Linked DNA regions of Homo sapiens. The protein of the gene in region 1 interacts with the protein of each later gene in a biochemical or structural test. Each region holds a gene or a part of one and is shown in the gene's direction. Other genes may lie near its edges.

The links.
Region 2: the proteins of BMPR1A (region 1) and BMP7 form a complex in vitro, tested with the Homo sapiens proteins (2 studies listed by BioGRID).
Region 3: the proteins of BMPR1A (region 1) and FST are reported together in a solved structure, tested with the Homo sapiens proteins (one study listed by BioGRID).
Region 4: the proteins of BMPR1A (region 1) and BAMBI form a complex in vitro, tested with the Homo sapiens proteins (one study listed by BioGRID).

Annotation. Positions count from the first base shown.
Region 1 is NC_000010.11:86,912,599-86,920,959, forward strand, and holds part of BMPR1A (bone morphogenetic protein receptor type-1A isoform 3 precursor), read left to right. Parts: intron 1-4,535; coding exon 4,536-4,728; intron 4,729-6,573; coding exon 6,574-6,871; intron 6,872-8,361. UniProt on the Homo sapiens protein: On ligand binding, forms a receptor complex consisting of two type II and two type I transmembrane serine/threonine kinases.
Region 2 is NC_000020.11:57,254,122-57,264,257, reverse strand, and holds part of BMP7 (bone morphogenetic protein 7 preproprotein), read left to right. Parts: intron 1-10,136. UniProt on the Homo sapiens protein: Growth factor of the TGF-beta superfamily that plays important role in various biological processes, including embryogenesis, hematopoiesis, neurogenesis and skeletal morphogenesis.
Region 3 is NC_000005.10:53,482,175-53,489,316, forward strand, and holds the end of FST (follistatin isoform FST344 precursor), read left to right. Parts: intron 1-157; exon of another isoform or gene 158-341; coding exon of another isoform or gene 342-411; intron 412-705; coding exon 706-897; intron 898-1,329; coding exon 1,330-1,548; intron 1,549-1,894; coding exon 1,895-2,119; coding exon of another isoform or gene 2,120-2,158; intron 2,159-2,822; coding exon 2,823-3,053; intron 3,054-3,512; coding exon of another isoform or gene 3,513-3,514; exon of another isoform or gene 3,515-3,753; coding exon of another isoform or gene 3,754-3,776; coding exon 3,777-3,859; 3' UTR 3,860-4,960; downstream 4,961-7,142. UniProt on the Homo sapiens protein: Multifunctional regulatory protein whose primary function is to antagonize members of the transforming growth factor beta (TGF-beta) superfamily including activin, myostatin, GDF11 or bone morphogenetic proteins (BMPs).
Region 4 is NC_000010.11:28,679,020-28,685,067, forward strand, and holds the end of BAMBI (BMP and activin membrane-bound inhibitor homolog precursor), read left to right. Parts: intron 1-2,238; coding exon 2,239-2,526; intron 2,527-2,963; coding exon 2,964-3,382; 3' UTR 3,383-3,913; downstream 3,914-6,048. UniProt on the Homo sapiens protein: Negatively regulates TGF-beta signaling.

The DNA of each region.
Region 1 (8,361 bases):
TAAACCAGGTTATAGGAACCAAGTCCTACAGAGAAAGGCAGGGGAAGTTAGATCACGAAGTCCTATATGAAAGGCAAGAGTTAGCTCACAAGTTTTGCTCTAAGCATTTTACCAGCCAACTTAAAGAGGAATCAGGTATAAGATTCCTTGCATCTGTAAGTTTAAACTGATTGATTGAGGGAACTGTAACTATTTCAGATTCTGAAATAAAAAAGAAGTTTCAACAGATATTCTTAGAGAGGATGCTTCTCTCAATATACTACTACCAAAACACATAGTTCAATAAAAAATAATTTTAAAGGGAATTACAAATAAATTCCAACAAATTTGGATGGATTCTTGGTATCAGGGAAAAAAAAATAATCCCAGCAGGTTCATTTATATATGGAAATACTCAGTTTTGGGTTGAAGGAACTCTTATTTGAGAGGACCTGTATTATGAACACTAGATATCCAGATAGGTTTAAGTTTTTAATTGTATTAGTTGAAAGAAACTGATCTCTTCTTATTTTATTTTATTTTACTTTATTTTATTTTAATCGTATCGAGATAGTCTTGCTCTGTCACCCAGGCTGGAGTGCAGTGGCCCAGTCTTCGGCTCACTGCAACCCCTGCTTCCCAAGTTCAAGCAATTCCCGTCTCAGCCTCCGAAGTAGCTGGAATTACCAGATGCACCACCACACCAGGCTAATTTTTTTTTTTTTTTTTTTTTGAGGGATGAGGTTTCTCCATGTTGGCCAGGCTGGTCTCAAACTCCTGGCCTCAACTGATCCTTCCACCTTGGCTCCTAAAGTGCTGGGATTACAGGTGTGAACCACCGCACCCACCCTGATCTCTAATTTTGAAATTCATCTTATTAAATAACTCTAATTGAATTGGAAAGGTAAAAGTAAAACTGCCTTCATAGGCAGACAACATGATTGTTTACGTAGAAAATCCCAAGAATGGTACAATAAAACTACTGCAGCCAGTAAATGACTTTATCAGGTTGCAGAATACAGAGTCATTGTACAAATACCATTGAATTTATAGGCTCTAGCAACAAACAATTAGGTAATTATAAAAACAGTATTTAAAATAGCATCAAAAACCATGAAATATTTAGAATAAGCCTAACAATTTATGCAAGACCTGCACACTGAAAATTATAAAACATTGCTGAAAGAAATTAATAAAGCCCTAAATAAGTGGAGATGTTTATAAATCTGAGGACTCAGTATTAAGATTTCAGTTTTCCTCAAATTGGTGTGTAATTTCATTCGAATCCAAATGAAAATCAGAGCAAACTTTTATAGCAATTGATGTATATTCTAACATTTATATGGAAATGCAAAGGACTAGAAGAGCCAAAACAATTTTGAAGTAGAAGAACAAAGAGGAATCACTACCTGATTTCTGGACTTACCGTAAAACTCAATAATGATCTCAATTTGGTACTGGCATAAGGATAGATGTATTGATGAATGGAACAGATTATGGAGTTTAGAAAGGAACATGCACTTAATATGGTTAATTGATTAAAAAAAAAAAAACAAAAAGATGCCCAAGTAATTCAATTGGAAAAAGGCAGTCCATTTAACAGATGGTGCAGGAAATATCAGGAATCCATTTACCAAGAAGTTAATCTCAGTCCTTACCTCCTCACTCTATACCAAATTAACTTGAAATGTAGCATAGACCTAAATGTAAAAGTTGAAGTATAAAACCTCTAAAAGAAAATGTCTGAAAAAATTATTCTGACCTTGGGCAGACTTCTTCAGTACATAAAAAACACAAATCATTTTTTTAATGATAAATCAGGCTTTATCAAAATTTAAAACTTCTGCTATTTAGAAGACAAGAAAATGAGAAGACAAGTCACAGATTGGCAAAACAGATCTGATACAGGGTTTTTGTGCAAAATATATAAAGACCTTTTGCAACTCAATAATAAGATAACCCAATTTTTTTAAAAAATGGACAAAAGATTTGAACAGACACTTCCCCAAAGAAGATATAAGAATGGCAAACAAGCACATGAAAAGATGCTCAGCATCAGCAGGGATATACAAATTAAACACAGTAAGATACTACTGCACATCCACTAGTATAGCTAAGACTGATAATATTAAGTGGTGCCAAAGATGTAGATCAACTAGAAATCTCATACATTGCTGGTTGGAATGCAAAATGGTATGGCTATTTTGAAAAATAGTTTGACAATTGCCTGGAAAGTTAAGGGCATACTTTCCGTACAATGAAGCAATCCTTCTGCTAATTATTTACCCAAGAGATATGAAAACTTGTCCACACCAGAGGCCTGAATGTGAATGTTTATAGCAGTTTTATTTATAATAGACATAAACTGGAAACAACCCCAAAGCTCATGAATTGCTAAATGAATAAACAAATGCTGGTACATTCATACAGTGGAATATTACTCATCAGTAAAAAGGAACAACTTCTAACACATGTAGCAGCAACAGTGGGTGAATTTCAAAAGTACTTTATGCTACATGAAAGAAGCCAGACACAAAAGGCTACACAAAAGTGATTCTCCTGCCTCAGCCTCCCAAGTAGCTGGGATTAAGGCATGCACCACCATGCCCAGCTAATTTTTGTATTTTTTTTTAAGTAGAGACAGGGTTTCACCATGTTGGCCAGGCTGGTCTTGAACTCCTGACCTCAGGTGATCCACCCGCCTCGGCCTCCCAAAGTGTTGGGATTACAGGCGTGAGCCACCACGCCTGGCCAAAAAGTGAGAATTTTTTTACGTTATTAAAATATTCTGTATCTTAATTGTGGTATTGGTGATTACATGATATAGATTTGTCCAAGGCTTGTTGAACTTTTCTCAAAAAGGGTACATTTTATATAAATTATACCTCAATAATCTTGACTTAAAAACTTACAGGCTGAGGCAGGCAGATCACTTGAGGTCAGGTGTTCGAGACCAGTCTGGCCAACATGGTGAAACCCTGTCTCTACTAAAAATACAAAAATTAGCTGGACGTGGTGGCAGATGCCTGTAATCCCAGCTGCTCGGGAGGCTGAGGCAGGAAATTGTTTTAACTGGGGAGGCAGAAGTTGCAGTGAGCTGAGATTGGCCGCCGCACTCCAGCCTGAGCAACGGAGCGAGACTCTGTCTCAAAAAAACAGAACAAAATTTACAAAAGGATTCTATAATAAATGATACATAAAGTCACTTTAGCTTTGCACTAAATCTAGTCCATTTTAGAAGCATTTCCAACTTGGAGCATAATGTTCTTTTTAATTTAGAATGATCACTAATGCTTCTGAAAATGAAAGATAACAATCCATGTACATCTTTTATTTAACAAATATTAAAGTACTTCTGATATTGTCCCAAATAAATACTTATATTCTGTGAGCAGGGGATGGAATTCAAGCAAATATATATGTAAATAAGAATAAAGTTATGATTGTGTTAAGCGCAGCAACTGAGAGGTTTTGTGTGCTATGAAGGTGTTTAAGTGAGAAAATAGCACTCTAAGTAAAGGGAACTGGATATTCAAAAAAACCCAGCGACAGGAATAAGCTTGAGTGAATTCTAAAAGTTGAGATAAGTCAAACGAGGTTTGTGGGTGGGTGGTCAAAGCAAATAATGGGACCAGGCCAGATCAGGCAGGGTCTTATAGATGGGATTTTTAAGATCTTTAACTGTTATTTGGACTTTGCTGCATAATAAACCACCCCAAAACTTAGTGATGTGAAGCAACAAACATTATTTCTCATTCTGTGAGTCTGTGGGGCAGTTCATTTGTTGGACTTGCTTAGCTAGAGCTAGGTGGTGTAGTTCACACCCTTGGCCGACAGTTCATGCTGCCATTATTTTTTGGTCACAGGGTTCCCAAAGCAGCAGGAAGGGGGCAAGCCCCAGTCCACAAACATTTGTCAGGTCTTTGCTTGCATCACGTTCGCTGTTGTTCTTTTATCCAAAGCAAGTCATGTGGCCTAAGCCCTGAGTCTGTGGACCAAGACTACCCACGACTGTGTGCACTGGGAGGGTAATTATTATGACCATTTTTGCAAACAGCCAGCCACTTGAATAACCTGTTTATGATTTCAGAATACATTGTACATTGTTTCATACTTTAAAGTACATTATGGCCGGGCATGGTGGCTCACGCCTGTAATCCCAGCATTATGGGAGGCCGGGGGTGGGGTGGATCACCTGAGGTCAGGAGTTCAAGACCAGCCTGGTCAACGTGGCTAAACCCCATCTCTACTAAAAATACAAAAAAATTAGCTGGGCATGGTGGCGGGTGTCTGTAATCCCAGCTACTTGGGAGGCTGAGGCAGGAGAATCACTTGAATCTAAAAGGTGAAGGTTGCAGTGAGCCGAGATCGCGCCACTGCACTCCATCCTGGGTGACAGAGCGAGACTCCATCTCAAAAAAAAAAAAGTACATTATAAGTTTTTAACTGGAGTTGGTTGGGTACACCATGCTTTTTGATGAGATGGACTACCCCTTTGCCAGTCTTAATGGGTTTCTTTCATCAAGAGCTCAAACCTTTTACTTTTTTCTATAAAGGTTCAGCGAACTATTGCCAAACAGATTCAGATGGTCCGGCAAGTTGGTAAAGGCCGATATGGAGAAGTATGGATGGGCAAATGGCGTGGCGAAAAAGTGGCGGTGAAAGTATTCTTTACCACTGAAGAAGCCAGCTGGTTTCGAGAAACAGAAATCTACCAAACTGTGCTAATGCGCCATGAAAACATACTTGGTGGGTACACACTGATTCAGTCAATTTCATTTTTGACAAGGCTAGTGAGGTACAGGTGGAAGCCTCCATATGTGCTTTGAAAATGTGTGAGTTCAACTATATACATTTGGCTAAAGGAAACCTAGTAGAATACACGGTTTGAATAAAACATAGTCCGGAATGCCAACCAAGATCTTTCTTTACTAACCAGCTGAAGAAACAGCAGTGAGTTTCAAATGGAAAATAATACTAGTTTATTGGACTTACTCCCATAGTAATGAAAACCCAGTCTTTTATAGATAACTTAAGCAGTGATTTAGGGTAACATTAACATATGTGCCTTTTCCCTTTCATAAGCTCAACAGCCCAACATGCAGTTTCATTGTACGTTCTGTGTTTAATGTGTGTTTCCCCCCATCTCCACATTTACACAATAGCAAAGTAATTTAGGTGTGAGCTGGTCAGTCAGGTACATAAGCCGATCTGGCTATCCTGAGTTTTCTTTTCCCTTCACCTCTTGTTTTCCTCCCTTTAATTTGGAGAGCCCATAGCATGTTGCCAAGCAGGCAATTGTATTAGTTTCCTAGGGCTGCTGTATCAATTACCACAAACTGGGTGGCTTCAACCTCCAAAACGTATTCACTCAGTTTTCGAGGCTAGAAGTTTAAAACCAAGGTGTTGGCAGAGCTGTTGTGTCTCTGAATACTCTAGAGGAGGAGCCTTCCTTGCCTCCTCTGGCTACTGGTTGGTGGCCAGGAATTTTTGGTGTTCCTTGGCTTAGTATAGACAACACTCTAGTCTCCATTTCTGTCATCAGGTGGCCTTCTCCCTGGGTGCCTGGGTCCACATTTCCACCTTACAACATCACCAGCCATTGAATTCGGGCCCACGCTAATCCTGTATGAGTCATCTTAACTTGATTACATCTGCAAAGACCCTCTTTCCAAATAAGGTCACGTTTATAGATGACATGGATTTTAGACATGAATTTTGTCGGGGAGCACTGTTCAGCTCAGTACATAGCACTCACTGACCTTTTTCTGGAGGGAAGAGGGTAGGAGAGAAAGGAAAAGAGCAGGACTGTGGGCCTGGCAGTCAACGAGCCAGACTGAAAAGGCAGCTGTGATGAGTCACTGATGGGCAAATGGGAGTTGGCTTAATTAGGAGCTAACTCTTAGTTGAACATTCTTAATTTTATAAAAGTGTCCACTTTTTGCTTTGAAATTGAGAGCCTTTTCTACTAGAGAATCATGTAGGTTGATAATATTCTCCAGGTTATTTGTATAATATGTCATCTTTTTCTTTTCTTTCCTTTTCTTTTCTTTTTTTTTTTTTTGAGACGGAGTCTCATTCTGTCGCTCAGGCTGGAGTGCAGTGGCGCCATCTTGGCTCACTGCAACCTCTGCCGCCAGGTTCAAGTGATTCTCTTGCCTCAGCCTCCAGAGTAGCCGGGACCACAGGCACTTGCCACCATGCCCAACTAATTTTTGTATTTTTAGTAGAGACGGGGTTTCGCCCTGTTGGCCAGGCTGGTCTCGAGCTCCTGACCTCAAGTGATCCTCCTGCCTTGGCCTCCCAAAGTGATACAGGTGTGAGCCACCACACCCAGCATATATGATCTTTTTCTTAATCCTATTCACTTTCATGATTATTAAGATTATTATAAATTTATTGTAGAAGTACAGATATATGTGTAAATGTAGAAATATAATTTTTAGTAACACATTCACGACTTGGTGTCAGGCGAATTAAAGTTTCACTATCTGCACATGATACCTAAGTTTTTCTCAGTATCCAGAATGAGCATTACTTCTCCCTAGCCTATCTCTGATGATAACTAACCTTTTAAACTCATCAACTGGACAGGTTTCATAGCGGCAGACATTAAAGGTACAGGTTCCTGGACTCAGCTCTATTTGATTACTGATTACCATGAAAATGGATCTCTCTATGACTTCCTGAAATGTGCTACACTGGACACCAGAGCCCTGCTTAAATTGGCTTATTCAGCTGCCTGTGGTCTGTGCCACCTGCACACAGAAATTTATGGCACCCAAGGAAAGCCCGCAATTGCTCATCGAGACCTAAAGAGCAAAAACATCCTCATCAAGAAAAATGGGAGTTGCTGCATTGCTGACCTGGGCCTTGCTGTTAAATTCAACAGGTGAGTGGTTCTTTGCCCCACTGTTTTGAAATTATTTTAATTTCCAAAAGATATTTCCCTATTTGTATTCAAGATAATGGAATTCTAAAAATGTGCATATGCTTGTTTTTAGTTACATAAATGTATAGTTGGGGGGGATTTTGTTCTTTTTACAAAAATTGTGTCCTACTTCTCCTATACATAATTCTTGATATATATATATTTTTTTGGTGTTTTTTTTTGTTTGTTTTTTGTTTTTTGTTTTTTGTTTTTTTTAAAGACAGTGTCTCACTCAGTTGCCCAGGCTGGAATATAGTAGTGTGATCTTAGCTCACTGCAACCTCGACCTCATGGGCTCAAGCAATCCTCCCACCTCAGCCTCCTGAGTAGCTGGGACTACAGGCATGCACTGCCACACCTAGCTAATGTTTTTATTTTTTGCGGAGATGGGGTCTCACTGTGTTGCCTAGGCTGGTCTCAAACTCCTAGGCTCAGCTGATCCTCCCAAAGTGCTGGGATTACAGGTGTGTGCCATATAGTCTTAGCCATCCTTCCATTTCAGCTGATGTAAATCTACTTCATTCTTTTTAACAGATGCAGAGTTTTCCATATGTGGAGGTACTGTAGTTTATTCTTAAGACCCAACTGATGAACATTAAAGGTGTCTTCAGTTGATTATGAAAAGGTTTTTTAATGAACATTGTTGTATTTTAACCATATATTATATATTTGATCCTTGTGCACTTGTACAAGCATTTCTTCATGATGGATTCCTAGAGAAGGGCCTGCTGAGGCAGTGAGTTTATACATATTAAACTATGGTATGTTGCATATTATTTCTTTCAGCAGTGTGCCTCAGTTTACACACCCGTAAGCAGTAGAGATAAGGATGTCATTTTTCTGTCACCACTTGATAGTGTCAGTATTTTAAAACAAATGCAAGTGTTAGAAATTACAAATTTTTAGGAAACCTTTGAAACCATTTTAATCTTGTAATTCTAGAATGGAGTGGCTGCTTTACATTTCAGAATTCATTTTAGGCTGTAATATAAAAGTACCAGTCTTTAAAACAACTGTAAGAGACATTTAAATCTGTTACAGTGTTCTGAGTCAGTGTAGTATTTGTTGGCTCAGATATTTATCAGATGCTATAGGAAAATACAACGCATTATATTGATCACTGCTTTAGAGTAATTATTACTAATTGTCAGTATGATCATGTAAACATTGCTAACAACAGAACTCTGTTGATGGGACCCATAAAGAAGAAAATGTAATCCTATGTCACAAAGCCTTAGTGTATCATATGAGAGTGGTAAAAGCAAGCGATTCCTCTTGTATTTTCATATTCACCACTTCTCAGACATAATTATCTACTACTTTATCTTTTTTTTTTCCTTTTCTTTTCTTTTTTTTTTTTTTTTTGAGAGAGATTCTCACTCTGTTGCCCAGGCTGGAGTGCAGTGGCATGGTCTCGGCTCACTGCAGTCTCCGCCTCCCAGGTTCAAGTA
Region 2 (10,136 bases), on another chromosome or scaffold:
GGGGGCGCGGGGGAAGCGCAGATCCGCCTTCATGCTTCCCCCTCCTGATAAGGTCCCTGGAGTTCCCGGGAGGCCATTGTCTGTACTTAATAATAACTAAATCCAACTAGTGAACCAAGCTTCAGCGAGCAAGGGGTGGGAGGTTTAGATGCCAAAATACCTTCAAAAAAGTTTAAATTATACTAAGCAGCCAGTTAAGAAGGAAGCAGCAACATATGACCTGATTTAGAACCATCTCCAAGATGTATGAGGTGGAAAGAAGCAAGGTGCAGATGAGTGGGCTGCATGTGTGCTTGTATATCATCGTGTCCTCCTGGAGGAAGACACCAGGAACTGGAGAGAGATTTTACTGGAGGGGTAGAGAGGCGGGGGCATAGCTGGGGCTTACGGAGTGGGAGGTGGGGTCTGATTTTTCGTCGTCTGCACTTCTGTATTTGTGATTTTTTTAAAACAATGTGTATTTATTAACTATACCAAAAACTAAAGGAAAATTCCAAATACATACATATAAATAATGAACGCAGAGCTCTGTCGCCCTCCTGAAGCCTGGGGTTAGCCAGGGCCCTTTCTCTGGTGGGGGATTTATAGCATCTTCCCTTCTGTTGGGTACCCCGGACTCCCACTGAATGTGCAGGTCCCAGTGGCTGCCTTCAGAGCCTGGCTGGAATCATTAAAAAGGTATTTGTAATCTCTGGCTTCTGCAGAAGGCCCTGCAAACCAAGAGCAAAAAAGCCCCCAGTGCTTATGGGCCGGCAGTGTGGGCTAGGCCCCGGGGCTCCCTGTCCCCAAGAGAAAGACCAGGTTGCTCGGAGGGTGCCTCTGGGAACTTTGGTGCGGGCTATTTGCTCCCCCCATGGCGGCAGGAGCAAGCTGGGACTTGTTTGGGAAGGCCACAGCTGGGTGGTTTTCCTCCTCTGGCTGTACATACACCTTTCAATCCATTTCTTTCATCTTGAAAGGACAAAGACCGGCTTGTCTGAGCCTCTTAATCAGTCAGGCTGGCTTTGGGCTTTGTGGGACCCTGACTTTCTCAGGTCTAGCTTTCTGGGACATCACTCCAAATTAGATGGCAGAGTGGCTTTTAACAGAGCGCACTGACCTTGTTTTCTTTCTCTCTCTGTCCCTAAACTCGAGGTCATTAGTTAGGTGAAGACCTGGGCTGCAGTTTGGCGAGACACTTCCTGTAGATGCTTCTAATGTTGGCCTTTAATTTCTGCTAAGCAGCAGCACACAAATAAATGGCCTGTCCCTTCTATCCTGTTGTAGCTTGGAATTTCTCCATAGGAGGGACTTGGGGGTGGCAGTAGGGTTGGAGAGGGTTGGGGGGAGGTGTAGGAGACTTGTCTGGCCACTGAGTTTGCTGAGAAAGTACTGCTATAGTGTTTTTCCTTGGATTGCAAATCATGTTGATCTGTAGTATTCGAAGTTTTCTAAAGGCAAGTTTATTCTCACAATTTACATAAGAGTGAGAAAATATCACTTGCACATATCAAACTATTACTTCTTATTATGGTGGGAGTTTGGCGGGGGGGGCATGGGTGAGGATCTTGGCAGCCTCTGCTGCCCCTTCGCCCTGCACTGCAGAGCTCTGCTGTCTTGCAGGCAGGCGGCCTGCGTGCGCGGGAGGGGGGACCCTTGCCTGAATTCTGAAGGCTTTTGCAGACCTGGTGCATTTATTCTTCCTTCTGTCTGCCGCCAAACTGGTTTTTGTTCCTATAAGTCGTTCTTGGAATTCAAGTTTTTTGCCAGGCTGAGCGGGATCTAAACTAGAGGGGAAACTAGAGGGGAATTTACGACAAAACCAGGTGGTGGGAATGAGGACTAAAGGCCGCACCTTATGACAAAGCCCAGCCTGTACCATAAAGCCCCAGGCAATGTGAACTGAGCTGCCTGAGTGAGACTCCCATCTTCCCAGCCTGGGCCCCTTAAGTTCAATGGCAAGATTTGTAAACTGGTTTGGATTAACAACCCCGACTCCTCTTTGTAGACTTAATTTTGGAATTCAAAACAGCTACCCTCTCTTAAATAATCCCCAGGCAATGGCGACTCCGCACACTGCATCTAGCCATAGCCCGTTACCATTCTTTCTCTGGGAAGATCCAGCAGCTCTGTTAGGAATCTTGTAAAGTAGCCGGCTGGCACTAGGGGAGTGGAAGTCATCATGTTTATCTCTGGTCCAGGTAATGAAGGCATGAAATTTGTGTAATCTTTGAAGGAAAAGAAGAGAAAGTTGGAAACCTATCATTATTGGAGTCAGCCTATAAAAGTGGCTTTTGTTAATGTAGCTGAAGAGTAGGGAGAAGGCCGTGCAGTTTGATTTTTGCTTTATGCCATCTGGCTGTCCTTTTTGTTGACAAGTGTTTGGCATTAAGACCTCTCCCACTGCCCGTCAAGAGCAGGCCCTACCACTGTAGAGTATTAGAAAAAGATTCTGTTACAGTTTAAAAATTTCCTTCAGGGAGTGCTTCGCAAAGGGGAGCGTGGACTGCAGGCATTTGCAGCTGTAACCTGGCTTGTGTTAAAATTTGGAAGGGGCTGCTCCACATTCCAGCACTCGGAGCGCCGGCCCTCACTGGTGAGCAGCCAAAGGTTAATATAGATGTCACACAGCTCCCCCCTTCTTTCTTTCTGCAGAGCGCCTTTGCTATAGGAGTGCACCAACAGCTGTGTTTTTCGTAACCCTTTCAAAATCACTTCTTTTAAACCTCATTTTCCTGCTTATATAAATCAAAGATTTTCCTCCACTTTTCCCAAGCATGTATGTGACCCAGCTTTGAACTTTTTTCATTTTCTATGTATTTTCCTTCTGGAATCAAGGCAGGGTAAGGCTGAGCCCTGGATGCCAACTTGGGTGGCTGTTTTTGGTTTTGGTTCCAGGGTTGTCATTCGGTTGTGGAGCGGTCCCCATGGAAGGGGTAACAGAGATGGCCCACTTGCAAATCAGTTTCAGGGCAGCAAGGGGGATGATTGTCTGAATGCACAGACAGACGAAACCGCTTTTGAGATGCAGCCCTCTCAAGCTACGGTTTGGGGCTTTACCATGGCGTAGTAGGCTCTCAAGCCTTTGCCGAGATAAACACAGCTGGTGCGCGATCCCCTCACCACCGGAATGCCTGCGATGTGAGTGAATATCACGTGTCCGCTGAACTCAGAGACAACTGGTGACTTCATTCCAGGGAGAGTCCCATCTAAGTTGATTGATCACTCCTATCACTTTAATATCTCTCCCTCATTTGGTAAGGTCATATTTGGCCCATTGCAAGAATCAGCGTGCCCTAAGTCTCCCCCGTCTCCACCCTTCCCCATCTGCCCATCCGTGTAACAGCCTGAATATTTTGAATGGGGAGCCCTTTGCACCATGCTTCTGGCCACATTAATTCTTTCACGCTCACTCTTCAGTCTTAGCGGGGGGGCTGTTGGCACACTGGTTTCTTGGCAAGCCACTGCAAGGCTTCGCCTTAATGCACTCTGGCACTGTCACCGGGGTTAGGGCACAGGCAGGGATGTGTGGGACCTGTCATGTTATTGTCAGAAGGAATGTGCGGATTAGCCTTTACAGCGTAGTGGTGGGAGAGCACTGCAGCTGTGTACACTTATTATAAAAGATTTAAGTCCCACTGGTAAAATCAATATATTGAATTGCACAACCCTCTGCTTTTAATTAGTTTAAATCAAATGCGCCGGTGCCATTTTGCCTTCTCTCGCCTTCATGGGGTGAGGAACTACCAATATTTACATAGAAACTGTTAATTTGTGGTGAAAATGATAACACATTTAGCTTTACACACTCAAATTGCTCCAACTTGATGGATCCCAGATCAACGTGGAGTTGAGCTGAGGAGATGACGTCACCAGGAGCGGGGAGGAGACACCCGTGATGTCTGTTGCTTGGACCCTGGATTCCAGATGCAGGTGGACATGTGTGTAGAGGCAGTGACTGGGGATGCTGGTCCTTCAAGAAGCGAGCTGGTTCTTTCTATTGCAGGTCAAAAACAATGAGATTTACCTACATCATCTAAAATCCTTTCTCGGAAGCATTCTTACAAAATTGCGAAGTGGGCACTTGCTCTTGGGTCATTTTGAGCCTGTTCTCACAGCATGCAAGGGTCATGTACTGGGCAGCTCAAGGCACGGTGCTTTATTTATTCCAGAGCTTCACATGCTTTTCTTTCCAATCCCTGAAACAGTTTATAGAGGAAGGGCGTTTGTTCACTGCAAATGATCCCATGTACGACCGCGGCTATTAGTGAGCCGTTTGGTATTAGCTGTGTGTTCAAGCTGGGATTGAATTCCGGGTTTTGCAGCAAATGGCATCTGACAAATAATAATTGACAAAAAATGTGACTTGGTATTTCTTAATATGGAACAGATAGTTCATTTAAGCTTCCCCGGCAAAAAAAAAATTGCTCAAACTCAAACTGAAATAGCAATGCCAGGGAATACTAGGACTGCTGCTGTGTATTTTTTTCCGCTCCAAAGTAGAGTGTTTATGATTTGGGGGGATATTAGAGTGCATGAAGTTTGACACTTACTTATGCGAAACTCAGGCAAGCATGTGCAATACCGCCTTTTCAACATTTGTGTCGGAAGGCATTGTGGGGAGCCGCGCAAAGCCTGTGCTGATCCGCGTGGAGTGGATTGAATTAATGACAACTCCGAGAGCACCAGCTTTAGGGTAATTGCTTTATTGTTTTGGAGCCAGGGTGCATATAATCCGGTTCCTGTGCAAACATGTTGAACGTGTGTTAATGCATTTCCAAACCAGAGCCTCTCACACAACCCTGCTTTTCATTAATTGATGTCGGTAGCATGGTACAGTATTTCAAAGGGCTGGCCAAGTATAAACTGTGTTTCCAATTTCCTTCCTTTCCTGTGTTTGGAATGCCAATGTTAATTTGTTCCCATGCAGGAGCGGGGGCTGCCAACCGCGGCTTTCTATAAAGGGCTTCACAGTGAAGGCTTCCAGCCCTCGCTGATGCTTGGGGCTGCCTGGCCAAGTCTCCTGACACTTTGCAGCTAATTCTGGGTGATATATGGGGTGGGGGATTGGGGGCTTCACTGCCGTGTAACGGAAGTTCTCGGTGACAGCAGTGGGTGTGACTTGGCAAGGGAGATTGGAACGGCATCCACAGTGATTCTCTTTAGACACAGCCTAAACCTATGTGTCTGTTTCCACTATGACAGCACATTAGCTGTGTGACCTTGGGCAAGTTACTTAACATCTCTGCATTTGTGTCCTCATTTTATAAAGGCTACAAGAGAATCTCTTCCTCAACAGATTCTAAAGAAATAGAAATCATATCACCCATGCGCAGAGGCTGTCACCTAGTAGGTGTAAAACAAATGGTAGCTCTTGTTTTTATTGTGTTGGCCAGATGAAGATTTACGTTGGTATATTAGTCCAAATTTCAGTTTTTAAGTACTTAATCTTAAAATACTGAGATTAAACTGCCCATGTTATTTTAAATGTCAAGAAAATGGTCCCCAGAGTGTGAATATGTGTGCGCCTCCCTCTTTCAGAGATCAATGGAATTTGAATGAATGCACCAAACTTATTTGAGGATGAATAGAGTCTAAGGCTGAATCTTTTCCCCAATTTTAGCATCTATGGTTATTTAATGATTTTACTACTTGGGAAACTGGAACTCAGTGAGAGGGTATACCGGAACTCTCTGTAGTGCCTTTGCAACTTTGAATTAAAAATTAATTTCAAAATAAAATGTTTCATTTAAAAAATTGCATTATTGAAGTATTTCTTCCCAATCCTTTCTGGAAGATGGTCAAAGTACAAATTGTCTTTTCCTTCAAGGGAGTGACAAGCCCAAAGCATTCATTAACAGAACTGCACAACTTCCCCACTTTTTATTGGAGCAGGTGCAAGGCTGCCCAAGGCTCCCGCAGCTGGGGTTAGGCTGCAACAACAAAGCCCTGTGTGGATTCAGCATGTTTAGAAGCCTCTAGAGACCAGAGGACGAAAGAGAATGGCTTCAGGGCCAGATACCGAGGGGTGGCGTTTCTCATTCAAGACTTTCCATAAATTCCCTTCAGCTCTTTATACTGTTTGAAAAATCCGACTCACCAAGTATTAGGTTTCCCTGCATCTCTGAGGTCACGTGTTCTATCACATCTTTATCTCCCTGGAGTAGCTTTCAAGTTTCAATCTTTTGTTGCCTGGCTTAATTAAAATTGGCCACGAATAAAAACTTGCACCGTTTCCAAAATCGAGGACTTGTGTGTTTCTAAGCATTGGGTTTAGGCCTGCCCTGTCTTGTGCTTCCAGCCTGTCTTCTGCTTTCATGTAGCTTGGACTACATGAAGAAAAAGAAAAAGCTAAGCTCTTAGCATGACAGTTGGCATATAATGGTCCAAGTGCTCATCCCCCTGGCAACTTACACACACAAAGGCAGGCAAGTTTTTTTTTTTTTTTTTTTTTGGTGGCTTGTGTTTTGGCCTTCAATAAAGGACACTTTTCCTGTTTTTTTTCAGACAGCCTTATTCTCCTGCCCATGCACAGCCTTGCAGAATTCTCATGGCATAGAAGGTGCTCAGATATTGGTTGTTTCGGTGCACATATGGCATGAAGACATTCTAAGCAGTCTCTTCTAAATGCTTTTGATCTCCAATTCCCACTACTACCTTTTCAGGTACATACCTTAAATAGTAATAAGTTGTATAACTACTGCAGGATAGCTAGGATAGCTTGTGCTTCATAAAACATAGACAAAAATAGAAATTTAAGTAGGAGACACTAAAGCTAAAAGCAATACAAAATTTTGGTGTTTGTTAATTAATACAAATTTTAACTAATGAATCATTTTAATTTTAATTGTTAACACAATTTTAATTAACAATATACATTTAATTAAAATTAAATTTTAATATAATTTAATTAAGTTTGCAGTCATGAAAATTTGCGGTGCAATGGACTGTTCTTTGGTGTTTTCAAAATCATGATTTAACAGTTTAGAATCACTGATCTAAAGGCCTGGTCCCAAATTTCGATGACCCTTCATCTGGTCAGTATAAATGAAGTTATTGTGTGTGAAGAAACTCACAATCTTGGTGCGTTAAAAATCCCAGAAGTTTGTTTTTCATTTGTATCACATTATAGCTCTATCGTGGGTTCAGGGTGGAGGCGTGGAGTTCTGCACATTGGTGGCAGCAGAGTCCCTGGGAGAGGCTGAGGTCCTCAGAATGTTACGAATAAGGTGCCAGAAGGAAAGATAATGTGAACTGTGCGTTGGCTTTTAATATTTCTACCTGGGAGTGACTTTCTAACTTCAAAAATTTCTATTTTTGTCTGTTTTATGAAGTACAAATGATCCTAACTAGTAGTTATACAACTTATTTCTTTTTTTCTTTTTTTTTTGAGATGGAGTTTCGCTTTTGTTGCCCAGGCTGGAGTGCAGTGGCGCGATCTTGGCTCACTGCAACCTCCGCCTTCTGGGTTCAAGTGATTCTCCTGCCTCAGCCTCCGAAGTTGCTAGGATTATAGGTGCCCACCACCACGCCCAGCTAATTTTTGTTATTTTTTTTTATTTTTTATTTTTAGTAGAAATGGGGTTTCGCCATGTTGGCCAGGCTGGCCTCAAACTCCTGACCTCAGGTTTTATCCACCCGCCTTGGCCTCCCAAAGTGCTGGGATAACAGGCGTAAGCCACCTTGCCCAGCCACAACTTATTTCTATTTAGGGTATGTACCCCAAAATTTACTCTTCCACCTGAAAGAGCTTCTGCTCACATTTCATGGGCCAAAGTGAGCCATGTGGCCAAACCTGACCCAAGGTTGGCAAGGAGATGACGATACCACTGCTTGCTCAGAAAGGCAAAGCACCAGAGAGCGTCCAGGAAATGGCACAGATGACACCACGCTATCATGATTGAAGTGTCTCTCACAAGATTCAAAGACAGAAATGTGGGAAGTAAGTTGTGGGGTGTGTTACTGAAACCAGAGCTTCATTTTTCAACCCCACCTGTCAATTATGCAGATATTTTTGTTGAAGCTAGTGAACTCCCATGATTGTCAGTTGGAATTTGCATAACAATTATAATTGTAATATATCTTTTCCTGACTCCCAGTGGGTTCCTCTTGCCTCCTCCCATCTTGCGCTTCATTTTGGAGACTGATGTTCTGGAGGCTTCCATCTCACTGAAGTACTCAATTGGTTCAACAACAATAACATCTCTTTCCATTCCCACTTGTAAAGTGACTTCCCTGTTTATGACTTGTCTTTCAGCAAAGGCAAGCTTCAGCTTTTGTCCGGTTCACTATCTAGAGAATTAAGAAGCATTACTCTGCTCCTGGCTAATGAGGTGACTGCTGGTGTTTCCCCGGAAGATACAGGTTATCACTTCGCCATGAAATCTTGTCCACAATGGAAGAGCTGCTTGCTTTCTCTCCTGGGCCTTGGAGACATTCCTTTTTCTTTCTTTCTTTTTTTTTTTTTTTTTTTTTTTTTGAGATGGAGTCTCTCGCTATCCCCCAGGCTGGAGTGTAGTGGCATGATCTCCACTCACTGCAACCTCCACCTCTGGGCTTCAAGCAATTCTCCTGCCTCAGCCTCCTGAGTAGCAGGGATTACAGGCTCCCACAACCACGCCCGGCTAATTTTTGTATTTTTAGTAGAGACGGTGTTTCACCATGTTGGCCAGGCTGGTCTTAAACTTCTGACCTCAAGTGATCCACCTGCCTCAGCCTCCCAAGGTGTTAAGATTACAGGCGTGAGCCACTGCAACTGGCCCCTTAGAGACATTTCTTAGTCCAGGCAGGATCTTGCATAGGCTGAATCTAGACATTAAATTCAGAGACCCCTTCATCATCTAAATGCATCACTGAAATGGATTGTAGACCTCAGAGGGCTAAGACCTTTCTGTGTAGCAGCAATGGATTCAGAGTAGCCATCTTTATGGGGCCCTCATGCAGTTCTCTCAGTATTCTGCAGGGTAAGCAGTGTCATTTCCATTTTAGAGAGGAGGATGCTGAAGGGGCCCAAACATGCACAGCTAGGAAGTGTGGGGCAGATGTGTCTGTCCAGCTCTTGCTGGGTGCAGAGCTGCCCATTCTTTCCTCCTGAACCTGTGGGGTATCGAATAGGTAGCGGGGAGCGTGGAGGAGATGATGTTGAGACCATTAAAACAGAAGCCGAGCCCATGGCCTTGACTCTGTGGTCCCGTGTTCTGATAAGTGACATAGAGATAAGCAGGCACACACCTTTCCCTTCTGTTATCCACCCTGCTTGTGATACCTCCCCTCTCCTCGGTCTTTATGGTTTAAAAATAATTGTCAGGGCATAGGGCCCTGAGTGCCTGTGGGGGGCACCTACATGTACCCCATAACCCTTCCATGGGGAAATTCCATAGCCAGCCAGAGATTGGTATTTTAATAGCAATTCCTCAAGATGCTGTATAAAAAAGACCACAGAAACAGTTTTTTTCCGTATGTCCCAGCATGCCTTTGTGTACGGTCTGTAGTATTGTAAACTCCCCAAAATCAAAATGTGCATGAACAGGGGATTCGAGAGAGAAGCAGGTGTAGCTCTGGGAGGGGATATGGAATAGTCGCCCCAGCGCAGGGACTTCTTTTTGTTTTTGTTTTTTGTTTTTTTTTTTTTACTGTATCAATGTAGACTGGAAACAATGTCAGAAGGAGAAAGCAAGTAGCAGAAGGATGTTTAGGATGTAACCATTTGTTAATTACACACATAGGCACCCCCGCCCCCAACCTCCCACACAAGGGGACCAACTCATAAATGTATTGTTTGTGGGTTCATACACATTGCAGTAATACCATGGACACATGGGCAGGAAGGACTCCCTACCTTCAGGGTGAGAGCTGCCCGTGGGGAGGAGGGAAAGGATAGTTTTGATGAGAGTTTCAAATAAATCTCACCTATTTCTGTCAAGTTTTCTGTCTTTTAATAAGAAGAAACCAAAAGAGGCTGGGCGCGGTGGCTCACGCCTGTAATCCCAGCACTTTGGGAGGCTGAGGTGGGTGGGTCATCTGAGGTCAGGAGTTCGAGACCAGCCTGGCCAACATGGTGAAACCCCGTTTCTACTAAAAATACAAAAATTAGTGGGGTGTGGTGGTACACACCTTTAGTCCCAGCTACTTGGGAGGCTGAGGCAAGAGAATCGCTT
Region 3 (7,142 bases), on another chromosome or scaffold:
TTTTGCTTTCATTTTTCAGAAGTGCCTTTTGCTTGATCTGTTTCTCTCTCTCTCTCTTTCTTTTCTTTCTTCCTCTCTCTCTTTCTTTCTTCCTTTTTTTCTTTCTTTCTCTTTCTTTTCTTTCTTTCTCTTCTTTCTTTTCTTTCTTTCTTTCTCTTTCCTTCTCCCTCTCTCTCCCCTCCATCTCTCCTCTCTCCTCTCTCTCGTTCTCTTACTTTCTTAACCCCTGTCACAAATAATTCCTGTACCCGCCTACATGAAACCAGCATGTAAAAACATCCGTCGCATCCTGTTTTTGTCAGGTTCTTTAATCTGCTCTTCGAGTCTCTGCAGGTTATGAAATGGGACGAATAAAAGTAAACAGTCTAGTAAAAGTCAATGCAAGCTGCACGTGTTGTGTCTGGGTCACTGGTAACTGACATTGATATGGCTGGGGCGCCCTGTCTTCTCCCTCTCTCCCTCCCTCCCTCTCGCCCACCTCCCATCTCTGTGATCAGGGCTTCCCCCTCCACTGCCTTCTTTTTCCACCCCTCCACCCCTTTCGATTTATTTCCTACTTTTCTCCCGCGTCTCTCTCACTTCCCCTCCTCCACGCTCACCCCCTCCCCATCCCCGCCGGGTCTCCTTCGCTAGCCACCTCGCTCTCCCTGCCCTGCCACCGCTCACTGCTCACTCACCCACCTCCCCACCCTTGTCTCTTCACAGCTGGGAACTGCTGGCTCCGTCAAGCGAAGAACGGCCGCTGCCAGGTCCTGTACAAGACCGAACTGAGCAAGGAGGAGTGCTGCAGCACCGGCCGGCTGAGCACCTCGTGGACCGAGGAGGACGTGAATGACAACACACTCTTCAAGTGGATGATTTTCAACGGGGGCGCCCCCAACTGCATCCCCTGTAAAGGTAGGACTCCTTCTTCCCAACTTGCAGGCCCTCAGTAGAGGGCGTCTTACCCTTAGCTTCCCCACTACCTGACTGGGGTTTGGGAGTAGGAGAGCTTTGTTCCTGGGCTTCCCCTTCCTGTCCCTTGCCCTGGTAAGCCGTGCAGACTCTAATTCTGCCTGTTACAGGCTGTAGGGAATACACGCCAGACTTCTTAGCCAAGTGTGGTGGTGAAACCCACCAACCTGTGCTCCTTAATGAGAGAGATCTGGGTGTGGGGCACAGCCCAAGGTCCACACTCTTTCACCAACTCCCAATATTCCAGGAGAGAGCCTGGGGCCCCTCCAGCGCAAACTCAGGGCTGCATGATTGCGCAAGGCACCCGAAGCCCTCCTGGCTGACCTGCAGACTGCCTGGCTCTGGTTTTAATCCATGCCTGTTTCTAACTCACAGAAACGTGTGAGAACGTGGACTGTGGACCTGGGAAAAAATGCCGAATGAACAAGAAGAACAAACCCCGCTGCGTCTGCGCCCCGGATTGTTCCAACATCACCTGGAAGGGTCCAGTCTGCGGGCTGGATGGGAAAACCTACCGCAATGAATGTGCACTCCTAAAGGCAAGATGTAAAGAGCAGCCAGAACTGGAAGTCCAGTACCAAGGCAGATGTAAAAGTAGGTCCTACCCTGTTGAGCAAGACTGGATCTGTCCCCTCCTCCAGCTTTGTACCTAAAGTAGACCCTCTAGAAGACCCTTGGGGGATGGTGTAGTCCGCAGTAAGAGCCTGATAATAGTAATACTGAAACCAAATAAAGGAGTCCTTTTCTAACCTCTAGAGATTCATTAAGAACACTGAGGGGACCAACCTAGTCATAGATTCTCTCTTGAAAACTACAGGGCTCCCTAAGTGCCTTTTGAAAGCTGGATGCTTCAGTGTCATGATTTCCTTGGTAACTTCAAGTGCTCACTCCCTAAGGACTAGAAGGTACCTATTCATGTGTGTTTCCTTCTTTGTTCCAGAGACTTGTCGGGATGTTTTCTGTCCAGGCAGCTCCACATGTGTGGTGGACCAGACCAATAATGCCTACTGTGTGACCTGTAATCGGATTTGCCCAGAGCCTGCTTCCTCTGAGCAATATCTCTGTGGGAATGATGGAGTCACCTACTCCAGTGCCTGCCACCTGAGAAAGGCTACCTGCCTGCTGGGCAGATCTATTGGATTAGCCTATGAGGGAAAGTGTATCAGTAGGTATTCTGGATTGAGGAAGGAAAAAGAGAAAACAGGCTAGTTCTATTATTAAACTGTGGGGTTAACTAATAAGTAAAGCCCAAGGCGTCCCCAAACACCATAGGGAGAAATACGCTGCAATTTGGGGAAAGTGTTGTGACCACAGTATTCCTCATGGAAACCATTGTCTTCTGGAGGCATTGACACATATATTCAAATGCCAGCAGGAAGCAAGGAACAGTATTCCGTCTTAGAAAACTTAGAACTTACTCAATTTTACACATTTTTTTAAGTGCCAGACTTGCTGGAAGCGAAAAATAATTACTTAGCAGTTCCAGAAATCTGTTGTCAGATTCTAGTAATTAATGGAATTCTTTCTTTTGTAAAAGATCCCACTTGTGGGAAATAATAAGATACATATTTAACTTGAGAATATTGTAAAATCCTGTTCTTAAAAAAATACCCTTTTAATGCACTAATGTAGTATGTAAGAAACTGCAGGGGTTTTGTGCGTGTGTATGTGTGTGTGCATTTGAGTTTCAGTTTTATTATCCAGCATTTTTGCATAATATCTCCATTACCCCCATTAGTAATAGGCTATTACTATTATGTTTATATAAAATAAATTATGTTTATATTTATTGATAGAGGACTAGAGAAAGGGAGAAAAGGGGGATATGGGGAAATCAGTTTACTCATCACAGATGTATTATATCCTAGAAGCAAAGTCCTGTGAAGATATCCAGTGCACTGGTGGGAAAAAATGTTTATGGGATTTCAAGGTTGGGAGAGGCCGGTGTTCCCTCTGTGATGAGCTGTGCCCTGACAGTAAGTCGGATGAGCCTGTCTGTGCCAGTGACAATGCCACTTATGCCAGCGAGTGTGCCATGAAGGAAGCTGCCTGCTCCTCAGGTGTGCTACTGGAAGTAAAGCACTCCGGATCTTGCAACTGTAAGTGCGATTTTTAACCTTGCTGCCATTTAAGGCTTTCCCAGGCAATCCCTAGGGAATGGACACTTACAAAGCACGCAGATCTCCCATAAATCCATTTCTGTTCAAATTAGGTAGCTGCTAAGTATCACCAGCAATTCAATAATCCACAGAAAATTCTCTGCGATGTTTCTTGGCTTTTAGGACTTATCTGGTGATCATCAATGGGGTTGCCTCTAGAAATCTATTTCCAGTTGTTTTCCCCTATTTCTTGTGTTTTGGTAGTGTGCTTTGCTGTTTGCTTTATTAACATTTGAGTCTAAACTAACTGCTTCAAAAGTTTTTTTTTTTTTTTTCCAACGACAGCTTCATATTATCACACATGGGCTGCTGCTTTTTGCAGTTGCCTCTACTAACTCTGAATTAAGGACCCAAAGCAGTTATACCTAGAACACAAGAGCGCTTTTTATCTAATTTCAGGAATCTGCCCGTAAAACCTGAGCCATTGATTCTTCAGAACTTTCTGCAGTTTTTGACTTCATAGATTATGCTTTAAAAAAATTTTTTTAACTTATTGCATAACAGCAGATGCCAAAAACAAAAAAAGCATCTCACTGCAAGTCACATAAAAATGCAACGCTGTAATATGGCTGTATCAGAGGGCTTTGAAAACATACACTGAGCTGCTTCTGCGCTGTTGTTGTCCGTATTTAAACAACAGCTCCCCTGTATTCCCCCATCTAGCCATTTCGGAAGACACCGAGGAAGAGGAGGAAGATGAAGACCAGGACTACAGCTTTCCTATATCTTCTATTCTAGAGTGGTAAACTCTCTATAAGTGTTCAGTGTTGACATAGCCTTTGTGCAAAAAAAAAAAAAAAAAAAAAGAAAAAGAAAAAAAGAAAAATATATTGTCCATACTGTAAATAAGTGTATGCTTATTTATTTGGGGGGAAAACTATACATTAAAGGACCTTTGTCCTAAAGCTCTCTCCCAGGCCACCTTGTTACTCATTGGACACGGAGAGGCATTCATTGTGAGGTCTACTGGATGAGGCCCATAGTTGAGACTTGTAGACATTTATTTATACTGTGTCATGTTTTATAATTTATACATAAAATGTCTGGTTGACTGTATACCTTGTTTTTGAAGAAATTTATTCGTGAAAGGAAGAGCAGTTGTTATTTATTGTGAGGTCTCTTGCTTGTAAAGTAAAAGCTTTTTTTCCTTGTAAACCATTTAAGTCCATTCCTTACTATTCACTCACTCATCTGTCTCCCTTCATTTCACTGTTAGACTCTTTTCCACTTTCAACAAACTTGCATGTCAGTTTCTGTCATGTTTATTTATTGGATTCTCTGCTGCCTGATCTGTACATACATGATCCCTCGGGTTTTGTTTACAAGGAACCTTGACTGACCAAAAGGCATTATAACTCTGACTCAAATACAAGGTACAGAAGATAAGCATCTTTGAGGAAACTCCTACTTCAGTTCTTTTGTTATGATGAAGACATTTGTGAGAGAGGAGATGATTAGAATTCTAGTAATGTACTTTTAAGATGTTACAGATACAAAGAAATGATGTGGGTGTCAGGAGACTAAAGGATGTTGAAGGCTACACATTCAACCTTTTGTTAGGTGTTTCCTTTAAGCTACTCAGCTGTACCTTTTAAATTAGTTCTTTTTCAACCAGTATATCACTAAAAGTTATATCAAAGCTTTATCAGTTCAAGTTTCTTGCTTTTCATAATACTTTTTTCTGATGCAATTTTATATTTTCAAACATGGCAAGTTAAAATATAAATTCATTTAAATATATAGTTTTGTACTTTTCTACCATGTAAATGTGCAATGTATATAAAAGTTATAATGTGTATTTGTAAATAAATGATGAGTGAAAAAATAAAAAAATTTTAAAAAGCCAATGGTTTCAATTCCTGATGATGCAAAGAAGTTATTTGGACTTTTGAGTAAAAATGTGTATGATACCTTTGCTGAGGAATGTAGCTATCTCTGAAATTACATGGCCAGGGCAGTACAGATCACTTCACTGGAGTTTGAAAGATAAAGGGATCTGAGGTCCAGCAACCCCACTGTAGGAGTGGCATATACCTGTCACTAACCACAGAAGGAACAGACTGTAGATGTGGGTTCTTTCCTGCAATATGCCAAGGCTAATATTTCCTCTTTAAAAACACCATCGTTTTAGCTGTCCTTGTTGCAAGCTCATCACCATAGCCAGGGACACGCTTCATCTTACTTTCCCATAAATCCAGTGCAGTTTCAGTCTTTTAAAAAACAACACACATCACAAGGAAAGCTGACAACAGATATAATATTTGACAAACACATTCTAGAAATCAGAATATCAGCTGCAGAAGTAGACATTATAGTGTTGGAATGCTAGGGACTTGATGAGGTGAGGATGGGGTGGAGGTGAATTTCCACAATGATGTCCATGGTTAGGGATCAAATAATGTCACTCATTGTAAGAGGAAGTGTATCAATATTTCACAGTTTACACTAGACACTATTAGAGCTTCAGAATGGTGTTTAGGACATCAGTCAATGGTCCCTGTAATACATAGGAATACATAACTAGATCATAAACATAAGTTTCCAATTCATTGTGTGCTACATACTCAAAGCCTAAATATATTAAAAATATCAAAGAAGTACAAGATGCAAGCCTCAGATTGGCATTTGGGCCATCATTCACTAGTCCCTGTAATATAATGCATAGGAATATATAACTGGAGCATCAACACAAGTTTCTGATTCAATTCCAATTCCAATTATGTACTTACATATTCAAAGCCTAATTATATTTAAAATATCAGAAATTCAAGATGTAAAGAAGTATCAGGACTGTGGGAGGGAAAGAGCAAAGTATAGTCAATATTACCAGCATCGCTAAACAATAATAAACATATCATTTCTTTCAAACACCATGACCCAAGTTCTTCTTAAAAGTTTATCCCTTTTGTAAAAAGCCTCTTTAATATGAATAGTTATTCAAAATTGTTGCCAGAGACTGTTGGCTCTCAACTGTGGCCACCTAATGAGAAATTTGGTGGAGGTAGAGGGACCTCTTCAGTAGACAGTTTATATAATGATTAGAGCCCTGTTGGATCTTGTTACCTTTCAGCCCTGTGTTCCCCAAAAGGAAAAGAGAGGTGCAGAAAACAAACAGGCTGCCATTAACTGCAAAAGACAAGGGTCGTAACTTCTCCGGTGTAGATTAGCTACTGGCTTGCCACTAGAGAGAGGCTCTCGGGAAAGGAAACGGGCAGATATGGTTTCACAGCCCTTCGTGGAGTTGATTTGTTGCTTGATCCTGGGATGCTACAGATGCTTTAAAGCTGCCACTGACGATCAGAGTAAAAACGTCAAATTTAACAGGCACCGATGTGTGTCTTGGCAATGGGAAGTGATAAAATCAACAGCTTGCCTTAGAAAACATCCAGATTATTTATTTAAAATTTTTATTCCAAATTTGTCAGCATCAATCATTCCTCTTAAACACTGGACGGTATCTCGTTTTCCTCCTTGGAGTTTTCCACTTTTCCAGTCACCTAGCATTACACTTATTAGTACCAAAAAAATAGAAATCTCTTTTAAAATTAAAAGTAGATTAATATCTTTAGACTATTGTTAGAATTTCAACTATGGCCCAAAAAAGTCTAATTCACATGCATATAGTGTAATTAATAGAATGGAATTACAAAATATAAATTAATAATAAAAGATCTGTCAGAAGCCTAATTTAAATTAAAATGTTTATATACTACATGGGATATGATTCCTCAAGTATAGCAAAAATAAAGTCTGGCTAATTAAAGTTATTCTCAAATGGGATAGCTAAATGCAGTACCTGACCTTTGATCAGATCTTGTTCCTAAGGAAAATAATGCTGTAAATAACAATATTGGGCCGGTTGATAAAATCAGAATACTGTCCAAAGATTAAAGTATTGCATCAATGTTAAATCTACTAAAATTTGATTACTGTGTTGTGGTTATGTGAGAGAATACTCTTTGACTCAGGAAATACACACTGAAGTATTTTGGAAAAGGGGCCACAATGTATAAAACTTACTCTTAAATG
Region 4 (6,048 bases), about 58 Mb from region 1:
ATTGCTATGTAGCAGGCATGAGGTTAAAGCATAAGCTAGCCCAGCGAGGATGATGTGCTACAGTATTTATTTATTTTGGAAGGAAGGGTGTAATTAACCCTAAATAACAGCCCTTGTGGCTTGCAGAGGGGAGCCTCCTGGCCCTATCAAAGGCGGGCAGAACAGGGAGGGACTGAGGCTGACATGAAGTCACAGATACCGAAACTATGTGCCTGATAATGATATAATTAGGGGATCAGAGATTTCTGACGGCTGCGGACTTCAAAAGCTTTAAAAGAAGCCAGCAGTCTCTCCTGTAGCCATCTTGACTAAAGCAGACATTTTTGTTTAATCACTACATACAGTAACGAGAAGGGGACAGAAACAGAAGGGCATTGTTCCACAGTTTCAAAATACCAGTCCCCTTTCTGGCCTTTTGCATGCCACAGGAAGAAACTTTATGAACGACAGAAATATAGTTTTAATACAGTGGTACAAAAGTCCATTCTCCTTGCTTAAAATGTGGCTCCAATTAAAAAAAAAAGGTAGTTAGAACTTTCCCAGTTACCTGTCAAAATTTTATTAGGCTGTTTTTAGGTCATTGAAAATAGGCTCTCATAAACATTTAAGCAGCATTTTACTTGTATTCAGTCTTCCTTTTCTGTACAAGGTCTGAAGCTAATAGGGTCAAAATGGGCTTTTAATCTGTTTTATTTATACTTTAAATCTATATATGGAATTTGTCAAACTAGGGATATGTAGTCATCACCCCAGAAGACTGGTGAGCTTTATGTGGAAAATAAAGTGAGCTTGGAGGGAGGAGGAGAAAGAGCAGAGAAGTGGTTCTGCAAAGCAAGGTTCTTACTTGAAGCAGAGAAGGAACTTGGGCCCAACCAGTGCAGATTTAGGAGCAAGACCCCTAGCTTTGGACTGTTAAGGGTTGCCAAAGATCTGTGTTTAGCGGGCTGGTTTTCCTTAGAACCGAAGCATTAGCAGCGTCCGGTGAAAACTGAGCATACAATACCGTGGTCTGGAATTTGGACAGATAATTAAATGAGACACCTTACTGGGGCGTTCAGAGAGAGGGGGAAGAATAAAGGTAAGGGTGGGAAGAGGTTTGTAAAACAGCAGATCCCGGTGTTTAATTTCAGAGTGGAGGTTTCGGATCTTCAGACGGGAAACTGGAAGAGGCGTGTGCATTAGTTTAGTTTACTCGCTGTGGCATGTGACAGCGACCAGGGTCCACTAGGTGGATATTGTATTAGTGAGAACTTGAAGACCCAGATTATTTCAACGAGAAACTGATATTAAAGCCTCCAATCTTGCCCTGCGACAAAATGTGAACGGAGCCATGCAACTCACAAAATAAGTTTTTATAAAGGAAACTTTTAATCACTTCCTGTAGAAAATTTGAGGTTTCCTTAAGGATTTTTCATTCAACCAGCAGAGGATTTTCAGTTTCAGTGTTTCCCCTTTTAGATCACATGTCGAATTACATGTAAAACTTGTGAGGAGGAGGAGGAGAAGTTAGCCTTGCAGTTTTATACTCCCCCCACCTTTTATGACTTTCCATTTGGGCTGAAAGAAATTGACTTTGGCAAGCAAACCACTAATTGTAAACTGCCTAGTTCCTGTTTTACAATATACTGACTAAAAGCTCCTCTGCATGAAAAGATCTTTATAGGCAAAAAGTTTGCCTTTTCTAGAGAGGTTGCAAATAGCTGCCTAGTTTCATAGTTTTAAAACCTCCTGACCTGGGCAGTTTCTAGATTGTTGTGTTTCTAGTTAATAACTTTATAAGGTGTTAGCTAAAGCTCTTAACTCTTGGTGCAGTCCTGTGGGATAGTAAACAATTCAGTAGTTCCGATCAAATATTTATACTGACAAAATCAAAAAGCCTAACATTTTTATGTTGTATGGTCATGTAGGATTAAAATGAATAAATAATGTGTTATACCTTATGGTAGGAGAAATTATACTCATTACTATTTCCTTCAAAAAGCAAAAGTTTTTTTAAAATGACTCTAAACTCCTCAGAAACCTGCTATTGGGATTACTACATTGCCAAAATGACGTTTAACTGGATTGAAACTTACGCACTGGCTGCAGGAAGGGCTTCTCCAGGCTCTGTAGACTGGAGCCCTCAGCTTGGATGATCTAAAAGTTCATGCCTTTGAATTTGGGATTTAGCAGTTGCCTAAATAGTTGCTTTATCTGGTCTCTGGAGCAGAGTTTGAGGTGGTTTCTCATTGTTTTCAGGTGAAATTCGATGCTACTGTGATGCTGCCCACTGTGTAGCCACTGGTTATATGTGTAAATCTGAGCTCAGCGCCTGCTTCTCTAGACTTCTTGATCCTCAGAACTCAAATTCCCCACTCACCCATGGCTGCCTGGACTCTCTTGCAAGCACGACAGACATCTGCCAAGCCAAACAGGCCCGAAACCACTCTGGCACCACCATACCCACATTGGAATGCTGTCATGAAGACATGTGCAATTACAGAGGGCTGCACGATGTTCTCTCTCCTCCCAGGGGTGAGGCCTCAGGTAGGTGGAAGCCGTTTCTAACCAGAATGCCTGCCTGATCTATAGACTTGTGACAGCCACGACTTTGTATGTCTGCTATTGATTTTGTTGTTAATGTAATTAGAGACACCAGAGGGAGAAGCCTGGCTGGATGCAAAGATGCATCTTGATTGAGTGGCTTTTATGTCTGAGCATTAGATGTCTGTCTACATAATAGGTTTTGCCTGTTTTTTCAACATTTTGAAGACATTAAAAGGCCATTACATCTCAGTAATGACAGTCTGTAAACAAATGCGTTTGTAAGCTTCTTCAGATAGTTTTGCAATGTTTTCTAAATATCGTTGATTTAATTGTAAGCTTCTTTTTAATGGAATTCTTGGTTAAAATGAATTGATGATTATGAATATCCCTAGGAGGAGTTAGCATGGAGTTTGATCATTTTCTTTGTACTCCTTTAGGACAAGGAAACAGGTATCAGCATGATGGTAGCAGAAACCTTATCACCAAGGTGCAGGAGCTGACTTCTTCCAAAGAGTTGTGGTTCCGGGCAGCGGTCATTGCCGTGCCCATTGCTGGAGGGCTGATTTTAGTGTTGCTTATTATGTTGGCCCTGAGGATGCTTCGAAGTGAAAATAAGAGGCTGCAGGATCAGCGGCAACAGATGCTCTCCCGTTTGCACTACAGCTTTCACGGACACCATTCCAAAAAGGGGCAGGTTGCAAAGTTAGACTTGGAATGCATGGTGCCGGTCAGTGGGCACGAGAACTGCTGTCTGACCTGTGATAAAATGAGACAAGCAGACCTCAGCAACGATAAGATCCTCTCGCTTGTTCACTGGGGCATGTACAGTGGGCACGGGAAGCTGGAATTCGTATGACGGAGTCTTATCTGAACTACACTTACTGAACAGCTTGAAGGCCTTTTGAGTTCTGCTGGACAGGAGCACTTTATCTGAAGACAAACTCATTTAATCATCTTTGAGAGACAAAATGACCTCTGCAAACAGAATCTTGGATATTTCTTCTGAAGGATTATTTGCACAGACTTAAATACAGTTAAATGTGTTATTTGCTTTTAAAATTATAAAAAGCAAAGAGAAGACTTTGTACACACTGTCACCAGGGTTATTTGCATCCAAGGGAGCTGGAATTGAGTACCTAAATAAACAAAAATGTGCCCTATGTAAGCTTCTACATCTTGATTTATTGTAAAGATTTAAAAGAAATATATATATTTTGTCTGAAATTTAATAGTGTCTTTCATAAATTTAACTGGGAAACGTGAGACAGTACATGTTAATTATACAAATGGCCATTTGCTGTTAATAATTTGTTCTCAACTCTAGGATGTGGCTTGGTTTTTTTTTTTCTCTTTTCTTTTTTAAACAAGACCAAGATCTTGCTTATTCTTCCATGTGCCTGTGTAATTTTCTTACAGTGTGGAGTTTCTAAATGTATACTGACCATCTTTTAGTGTCTTACCCACATTCTGGCTATAGGATAACTCTGGTTTTAGCTTTCATCTAAGAAGGAGATCTGGAATTTATGTGTACCAGGTCAGATATGATTGATCAATTTCTGGAGTTGACCTAGCAAAGGTCATTTTGATCCAGGTGTTCCGGAATACCTTTTCCAATGTGTATACCTCCACCCAAAAAAGAAAAAAAAACCAACTAAACAACTGTTTTTTTGTTCAAGTCAGTCACTGTCTCCTTTTACTGTTGATTAATTGGCCAGTTTATTTTGTCCTAAGCCAAATTAAGTATTTTGGCTCCCCAATTAGCCAAACCTTACTGTACAACACACTTAATTTTAAACCTTGTGCTTCAACAGTGTGATGCTTTTTTTTTTTTTAATACTTAGAAAGCTTTTCTGTAGTGAACACGATACACCAATTGATTTAAATAACTGCTACTAGGTTTCATCCTCCCAAATGATCCTTTATGTAACCAAATAGAACATTGGCTTTAGCCAGTAACTAATACAGCTAGGAAACAATGTTTCCTCTTATAAGACTTTTTGTCCTGATAACATTGCCCATCCTGAATTTAAACGTATGCTTTATTTGTGTACTTCCCGTGCCCCCAGTGGATCTTTCTTATTTTAAATGTGAGAATATTATGCCATGGAGGGTATCTTCTGAATTCCTTTGTATATGTGAAATTTTTGCTTAAAAGTTAACCCGTAGGCCGGGCGCGGTGGCTCACACCTGTAATCCTAGCACTTTGGGAGGCCGAGGCAGGTGGATCACAAGGTAAGGAGTTCAAGACCAGCCTGGCCAACATAGTGAAACCCTGTCTCTACTAAAAATGCAAAAATTAGCTGGGCGTGGTGGCGTGCATCTGTAGTCCCAGCTACTCGGGAGGCTGAGGCAGGAGAATTGCTTGAACCCAGGAGGCAGAGGTTGTAAGCTGAGATTGTGCCACTGCACTCCAGCCTGGGCAACAGAGGGAGACTCCATCTCAAAAAAAAAAAATTACAGCCTGCATATTCGAGTATGGGGTTTTCTTTTATTAATATTAATAGACCACCTGCCCCAAAAAACTAAGCTGTGGAATAAACACATATTAATAAATGATAGCATTCGTACTGTCCCTTTTAAGATGAGCAGCTCTTGCATGCATGCCTTATATTTTATAAAAGATGTTAAGCTTTATGTATGTCAGTTTTTGAGGAAGCCAAAGAATTGTTGAACCCAACCCTTCAAACCTGTCAAGGGAATTGATCAAAGTTGTCTGTTGGTGAAATTTCCACCCTCACCTCCACCTCTGGCTCTTTGAGTCTCACTCTGTCGCCCGGGCTGGAGTCCGGTGGCGCCATATGTATCACTACAACCTCCACCCCACTCGCCACACACCACACGTGGTGCACACCACCCTGCCCCCTGCCCCGCCGCGGGTTCAAGCGATTCTCCTGCCTCAGCCTCTGAAGCAGCTGGGATTACAGCCACCCACCACCATGCCTGGCTAATTTCTGTATTTTTAGTAGAGACAGGGTTTTCACCATGTTGGCCAGGCTGGTCCCAAACTCCTGACCTCAAGTGATCCTCCTGCCTCAGCCTCCTAAAGTGCTGGGATTAAGGTGTGAGCCACTCTGCCCAACCCCACTCTGGCTCTTGATCACATTATAGTAGATTGTAGTTTAGAGATGAAAGGACTTCTTGCTCCTTGTACATTCTCATTTCATGTACGACATTATGCAAGCTCAGCAATTCTTCAAGTGGCCAGTTTTTATATCTGTTACGTAGTCAGAGTTTCTTTTCTCTGCTTGCCCTGATGAGGGCCGGTTCACCTCATTTTTTCCAAGTACAGGTTAACCAGGAACTCTGCAATTCTTTAGGAAATAAAACAATGAAGGATTTAAAGTCATGTGCTTTGAAACACTTTGAAATCAGTGAACCCCTTCCTCCCAGAGAGGCCTATGTCTGGACTGGTGTTACCACAAACTTCATGGAGGATGCATGCAGCCTCTCCACTTGATCTTGGGCCTTTGTTCTTCCTATTGTATATTCACGAGGCTATTTACAGCTCCCTGTACTGTGGGG